Homo sapiens: one gene and its partner. The protein of the gene in region 2 interacts with the protein of the main gene of each other region in a biochemical or structural test. Each region holds a gene or a part of one and is shown on either strand. Other genes may lie near its edges. The genes, in order: XIAP and AIFM1.

Region 1 (3,819 bases), 6.2 Mb from region 2:
TAAACATTTGGACCTTTCAAGAAAGGTAGCTTGGTGAAGTTTTTCACCTTCAAACTATGTCCCAGTCAGGGCTCTGCTACTAATTAGCTATAATCTTTGCACAAATTACATCACCTTTGAGTCTCAGTTGCCTCACCTGTAAAATGAAAGAACTGGATACTCTCTAAGGTCACTTCCAGCCCTGTCATTCTATAACTCTGTTATGCTGAGGAAGAAATTCACATTGTGTTAACTGTATGAGTCAAACTGAAAATGATTATTGAAGTGGGAAAAAGCCAATTGCTTCTCTTAGAAAGCTCAACTAAATTTGAGAAGAATAATCTTTTCAATTTTTTAAGAATTTAAATATTTTTAAGGGTTTGACCTATTTATTTAGAGATGGGGTCTCACTCTGTCACCCAGACTGGAGTACAGTGGCACAATCATAGCTCACTGCTGCCTCAAATTCATGGGCTCAAGTGATCCTCCTGCCTCTGCCTCCAGAGTAGCTGCGACTATGGGCATGTGCCACCACGCCTGGCTAACATTTGTATTGACCTATTTATTTATTGTGATTTATATCTTTTTTTTTTTTTGAGACAGAGTTTTGCTCTTGTTGCCCAGGCTGGAGTGCAATGGCACGATCTTCGCTCACCACAACCTCCGCCTCCTGGGTTCAAGCGATTCTCCTGCCTCAGCCTCCCAAGTAGCTGGGATTACAGGCATGAGCCACCACGCCCAGCTAATTTTGTATTTTTAGTAGAGACGGGGTTTCTCCATGTTGGTCAGGCTGGTCTCGACCTCCCGACCTCAGGTGATCTGCCCGCCTCGGCCTCCCAAAGTGCTGGGATTACAGGCATGAGCCACCGCGCCCAGCTGATTTATATCTTATCTATGAGAAACACCAAAAACTATGAGTAAGCATCACTGAGTTATCATGTAAGAATTTTTTCTAAGTTTTAGCCCAAATTTCCAGGTCAAGACAAACCCACAGAGAGGTAAAAGGGTATTAGGATGGGAGTTCATATTTACAGCAGGAACTTTACATACATGGTCTCCTTGAGCTCTTGCAACCTTGTAAGATAAGTATTATTTTCCTTTCACAGATGAATAAACTGCTACCCTTTTTTTAACAAGTAGATTTGACTAAAAAGAACTATGTCAAATATTGCTTCCCATTTTCTTATTTCTTTTTTTTTTTTTTTTGAGACAGAGTCTTGCTCTGTTGCCCAGGCTGGAGTGCAGTGGCGAGATCTCGGCTCACTGCAAGCTCTGCCTCCCGGGTTCACACCATTCTCCTGCCTCAGCCTCCCGAGTAGCTGGGACTACAGGCGCCCGCCACCACGCCCGGCTAATTTTCTGTTTTTTAGTAGAGACGGGGTTTCACCGTGTTAGCCAGGATGGTCTCGATCTCCTGACCTCGTGATCCACCTGCCTCAGCCTCCCAAAGTGCTGGGATTACAGGCGTGAGCCACTGAGCCCAGCCCCATTTTATTTCATTTCTCTAACAGCAATGATATATATACATCCCATAGTATATCCTACTGATATACTAGCCCCTTTCCCCATTCAACACCTGTGTAATCAGGAAATAAAACAATGATTCGGGTTTAAAGGGTATATCATGTGAAACTAATGCTGGGGCGGTAGTCTCCATTCATAGTTCAAAATACAAATTTTATCCACTAAAATGGAAACACAAAAAACAACTACTGAAATGTAAATAATATAACAACAAAAATAACAAAATATCATAATACACAGGGCCAAATCACATTATATACACTCACTACACCCACTCTACCCTACCTTAGCCCGTAATCAAAGGGACAGGGGAAAAAACCAAATGTAGCAGGAAAGGCAATATAAAGCTATTAATTAATTAACTGGAATTTAGTTTGTAAATGCTAAAACCAGTTCTCAAAAATTAAGACAATGCTTTTGATCAGCAGACTAAATTATTACAAATAAAGATAAGTACTTATTGCAAAACTACTTGAATCTTTGCATGACTAAAATGTAAAATAAGTGGTGACTTGAAATCCTAGAGTGAACTTTATACAGAAAAGGAATAGTCTACATGTAGACACTGAGAACTCTTGGGAGGGGGAAAAGATTTGGATATGGCTATAGTTTTGACTTTGCAAATGATCAATTTTTGCGGAATTAGATGGAAAAGATCCGGTGCTTTTTATAGTTCAAACACAGACAAATGCTGTTAAGTCTCCAAAAATTTGATTAGAAGTTGGAGTGCTGAGTGATTTTAAGAACCTGAAGCAACAGCATTTCTAAACAATTCTTAAAATAAACTTGTTAGCCACATCAGCGTTGTGCATTAAATTTCACAACTCATGGAGAGGAAGAAAAAAAGTCTTGCTTAACTCTAAACATACAAGTTTTAGAAGAATTTTAATGAAGTGCGGCTCCCAGAACAGGAAAAGCCTTATGTTAAAACAATTCAGTCCTTGAGTCCTTGGCTAACAACTAGATTGAACTACCTACCTGACTTGGAAGTGAAGTGTCCTGGAAAACATATTTTAAAAATTTTAACACTTTTCTCCCCTTGTAGAAAACTTTAAATTTAAAGTCTAGACTATACAGACCAAATTCAAGTTAATGACTATATAACCAAACTAAGTGGCAGACAGTGCAAAGGTGAAGAACTGAGGATTTACATACTAAAACAGAAACAGGGCAGTCATTATTTAATTTTTAAAACTCTCATTTAAATTTGCAATGTTTTAGCCGGGCGTGGTGGCTCAAGCCTGTAATCCCAGCACTTTGGGAGGGCAAGGCGAGTGGATCTCTTGAGGTCAGGAGTTTGATACCAGCCTGGCCAACATGGTGAAACCCCGTCTCTACTAAAAATAAAAAAAAATTAGTCGGGCATGGTGGCACCTGCCTGTAATTCCAGCTACTCAGGAAGCTGAGGCACGAGAATCGCTTGAACCCAGAAGGCGGAGGTTGCAGTGAGCAGAGATCACTCCACTGCACTCCAGCCTGGGTGACAAGCAAGACTCCATCTCAAAAAGAAAATTAAATAAATAAAATAAATTTGCAATGTTTTAAATGAATATCACTTAAAGTAGTAATCAACAGAAGTTAGGAGAACATAACAATACTCTTTCTCTTAGAAAGTACAACAAAAATATAATTTTTTACAGTTTTACTCTCAAACTTTCCTCTGTAGTAACATGCCTTACTCACCTCTACAATAGGTTTGTTGTGAGAATCTTGTAATGTAAACCCTGGACGTTCTATGAAGCATTTTTAAACTTCTAGTTTATACCCTACTGATTCTTATTCAAGTGTTTTTTAAAAAATATTTAAACAACTATTCTTCTTTTCTTGCCAATATTTTTATAATTTCCAAGAGGTTTTAAGGATCTTGAGAGAACATTTATTTCAGAAGTATCTACTACTATTACTAGCCAAGAAAACAAATGTAGGTAGAGGAAAGACTTAACATTTTGTCCTATATACATCTTAATCATCCTAACGGTAAAAACTCACATGAAACTTTAAGATACAAGATGATATGAGAATCTCAACATGGAAAGCTGTCACTATAACTACAAGCAGTGTACAAACATGCTTCTACTTTTACCTACATAAGCTGACAGATGTTTAAAATACTGAGTTAACAAAGATCTTTTAGTAAAGTGACTTAGGCAGGCTTAAACTAGCAAGGATTAAGGATGAATCCTTACTAATTAATTGGAAGATCTGAGACATATTTTATATTTCATTTTACAAAATCAGAAATACTTATTTTGAAACAAGATAAGACATGGTCTACCTGTCAAAAAACTACCACTCAGAAATATTTTTCATCCACAA
Region 2 (3,819 bases):
AGGCGCCTGTAACCACGCCTGGCTAATTTTTTGTATTTTTAGTAGAGATGGGGTTTCACCGTGTTAGCCAGGACTGTCTCGATCTCCTGACCTGGTGATCCGCCCACCTTGGCCTCCCAAAGTGCTGGGATTACAGGCGTGAGCCACCACACCCAGCCTAATTAAGGTTTATATAGTGAAAAGCTAAACACTGAGATTAGTTCTGGTGAGGGATCCCTTGGTGACCAAAAAGCTGTCACCTGAGCAACTTAACAGCGATGCTTTTTTTTTTTTTTTTTTGAGATGGAGTTTCACTCTTGTTGCCCAGGCTGGAGTGCAATGGTGTGATCTCTGCTCACCACAACCTCCGCCTCCCAGGTTCAAGCGATTCTCCTGTCTCAGCCTCTGGAGTAGCTGGGATTACAGGCATGCACCACCACACCTGGCTAATTTTGTATTTTTGGTAGAGACAGGGTTTCTCCATGTTGGTCAGGCTGGTCTTGAACTCCCAACCTCAGGTGATCCACCCACCTCGGCCACCCAAAGTGCTGGGATTATAGGTGTGAGTCACTGCACCTGGCCAACAGCAATACTTTCTTTCCTTTCTTTTCCTCTACCCTCTATGCCAGGACTCCTTAGAAATAAAATATTAAGGAAAGTGAGTTATGAAGATGATAAGGGCAATGCAGACTACAGAATTATGGGTGTCTTTGAACTGCTGCTTCCTGTAAAATGCCAAAAACTTCTTTGGGCACATGATGGTTCCCAGCTTGAGAGATCTGTGAGCTCCAGTTGGAATGTTTCATGGCAACTAGTTTTCTTAATGTTCTTTTTCAGATATATGAAATCAGGGCATCTTTTCAGGAGGATGCTTCCTATTCAGAGGTTGCAAAGCACTTATGTAAGCCTTAGGTGACTGCATGGGTGGAAGTGCACAGAGTTCACCATCTGAAGCTTAATCTGGGGCCAGCAGTTCTGATACCTGTTGTATTTGCGTTACAAATGAACTTGAGCACCGAGGCCCTCATGCCCACTGTCCTGTAAGTGGGCGCTCGGCCTGGATTGCAGCTCTGCCCTGTCTGTAGTGAGGGCTGCCTGCTGCTCCTTTACTTCTCTTCCTGTATTCCTAGGATTGACTTTTGCTTCCTGCTGTAACTACTCTGTTTCTTCTTCCCAGCTCGAGCCTTGGGCACAGAAGTGATTCAACTCTTCCCCGAGAAAGGAAATATGGGAAAGATCCTCCCCGAATACCTCAGCAACTGGACCATGGAAAAAGTCAGACGAGGTAGAGAGACTGTTTCTATATGCTGCCACTCTATTTCCTTTGAGTGTGACCTAAGGCAAACTTCGCTTCTATAGGAACCCCCTTGACATAAGCCCTATCACCTGGCCTGTAAAATGTTTCCACCATTCTCCAGTCAGCTAAGTTCATCTAGGTGTTCTGAATCAGATGCCCCAAATTCCTGGAAGTGCTGAAAATGAACCATGGGTGTAGGTTCTTGCAGCTCTCCAAAACTGCCTGTGTACTGATAATTGGTTTTACCGTGGAGGAGACCGCTGGTCAGCTTTCCTACTTCCCATGAAAGTGATAGCCTTGTAGGCTCACTCTCAGGTCTTGTTTGCCTTTACAGAGGGGGTTAAGGTGATGCCCAATGCTATTGTGCAATCCGTTGGAGTCAGCAGTGGCAAGTTACTTATCAAGCTGAAAGACGGCAGGAAGGTAAGGAAGGAAAAGATAGTCTGCCAAGAGGCCTTCCAGTTCTCCACTCCCCTTGCCTCATTTTTACTCCTTCATTTGACACCAGTAGATTAGTTTTCCTGGCAGTTGCCATTAACCTGATATAATTTTCCGAATTAACCATCCCTCCATTAAAACAGAATGATGAGAGCCAGAGTAGGCTCCTGTGAACCACTTTCCCTTAGCCCCATTCTATCTGTCTCACAGAGTTTTGAGTCCTGGCTAGGGTGGCAGATTTCTGTTCGAATGACATGGGGGATGTGCATGGGATGGGGTGGTGGAGGCTTATGAAATAGAACTTAAAATCCATTTATCAGAGGTAAGTTAACCCATGATTTTTTAAAGTCCCAATTCTTAATGGCATGAAGGGCCATTGTTACGCCTGTAGGCATAAATGGAAACTGTGGTAATTGACTGAATTATTTCTTTTTTGCCTCAGGTAGAAACTGACCACATAGTGGCAGCTGTGGGCCTGGAGCCCAATGTTGAGTTGGCCAAGACTGGTGGCCTGGAAATAGACTCAGATTTTGGTGGCTTCCGGGTAAATGCAGAGCTACAAGCACGCTCTAACATCTGGGTGGTAAGTGTGCTACAGCATGACCAGGCATAATTCATTCTCCCTAGCCTGTGAACAAGTCTGCCCGGTGGTGTGCTAAAGCTCATCAACAGCCTAACCAAATAGGGTCAGAGTGTTTGGAGGCTGAGGGTACAGAATAGAAATGTGTGAACTGCTTGATTCAGAAGACCAGGTATGGCCTCATCTGCAAGCTAGTGGCAGATGAAATGAACAGTGTGCATGCCTGCAGGGGTAGAGCTCTTCCGGTTCTACTTATTGGCAGCAGCTACTGGCATAACCCCTGGTGGGCATGCACATAAGCCTTCAGATGGATCTGCTGTTCCCTTTGCTCAAACTTGAATCCGGAGGATGGAGGATGAAGCAATGTTATAACCTGTTCCCTAGAAAGGAAAATTACTCTGTTTTCATTTTCCTTGAGTACTATTTTTAGCTGTTTTTTACAATCTATTATGACATAAACAAGACTATAGTATGTAGGAACCATGAGGTAATTTCCCCATTGCTAGTTACAAGTGTATTGTGTTTGTTTATGGACTCTGCAACTAAGGACGTAGGTACCTTGGAGGAATTTTTTTCCCCCTCCAAACCTTGTTTTTTTTTTTTTTTTTAAAAAAAAAAAGATGTACTGGATCTTTTTAACCTGTTATAAAAGTAATACGTGGGCCAGGAGAAGTGGCTTACACCTGTAATCCCAGCACTTTGGGAGGCTGAGGCAGGTGGATCACTTGAGATCAGGAGTTTGAGACCAGCCTGGCTAACATGGTGAAACCCTGTCTCTCCTAAAAATACAAAAATTAGCCGGGTGTGGTGGCACAGGCCTGTAATCCCAGCTACTTGGGAGGCTGAGTGAGGCAGGAGAATCACTTGAACTAAGGAGGCAGAGGCTGCAGTGAGTGGAGATCATGCCACTGCCCTCCAGCCTGGGCAACAACAGAGCAAGACTCAGTCTCAAAAAAAAAAAAAAAGTAATATGTGGTCAATGTAGAAGACAGACAAGAAGGAGAGAGGAGAGGAAAGTCACCTGCAGCAACCATTAATATTTTGGTGTATTTCCTTCCCTGTGTTTCCTTGCATGTAGGTTTTATTGTTGGTTTGTTTTATTCGTGGCAAGCATACTATATATAATATTCTGCTCTTTTCCACTTAACACCATAAATGTAAGCATTTTCTATGTTGCTTCAGACTTTGTAAACAGTTTAATGACTATATATTCCATTAAGCGAATTTCACAGTTTACGGTTGCTCACTCGTTGGATTTTTAGGTTGCTTTGGGGGAGTCTAAATAGCCACAAAGATGAACAAAGGGTTAGAGAGCTCAAATGCCACATCCTTCATGAAGCTGGTCCAGTTCACCCCCGGCTGGAGGTTCTCGCCCTCTGCTTGAAATACTTGACTCCTTTAATCTGTACCTCTCATATGGCACACTACTGTTTACATTGCTCTGTAGTTGTGAGCAAGGCTGTATCTTTCTGTACTAGGTTGTATGCTCCTCATAGTCAAGGTCCATGTCAGTTTTGTCTCAGCA

What was found.
Region 1: of the proteins of AIFM1 (region 2) and XIAP, one has a biochemical effect on the other in vitro, tested with the Homo sapiens proteins (one study listed by BioGRID).

Annotation. Positions count from the first base shown.
Region 1 is NC_000023.11:123,908,234-123,912,052, reverse strand, and holds part of XIAP (E3 ubiquitin-protein ligase XIAP), read right to left. Parts: 3' UTR 1-3,819.
Region 2 is NC_000023.11:130,134,523-130,138,341, reverse strand, and holds part of AIFM1 (apoptosis-inducing factor 1, mitochondrial isoform AIF precursor), read left to right. Parts: intron 1-301; exon of another isoform or gene 302-816; coding exon of another isoform or gene 817-824; exon of another isoform or gene 825-1,156; coding exon 1,157-1,264; intron 1,265-1,610; coding exon 1,611-1,699; intron 1,700-2,156; coding exon 2,157-2,297; intron 2,298-3,819. UniProt on the Homo sapiens protein: Functions both as NADH oxidoreductase and as regulator of apoptosis.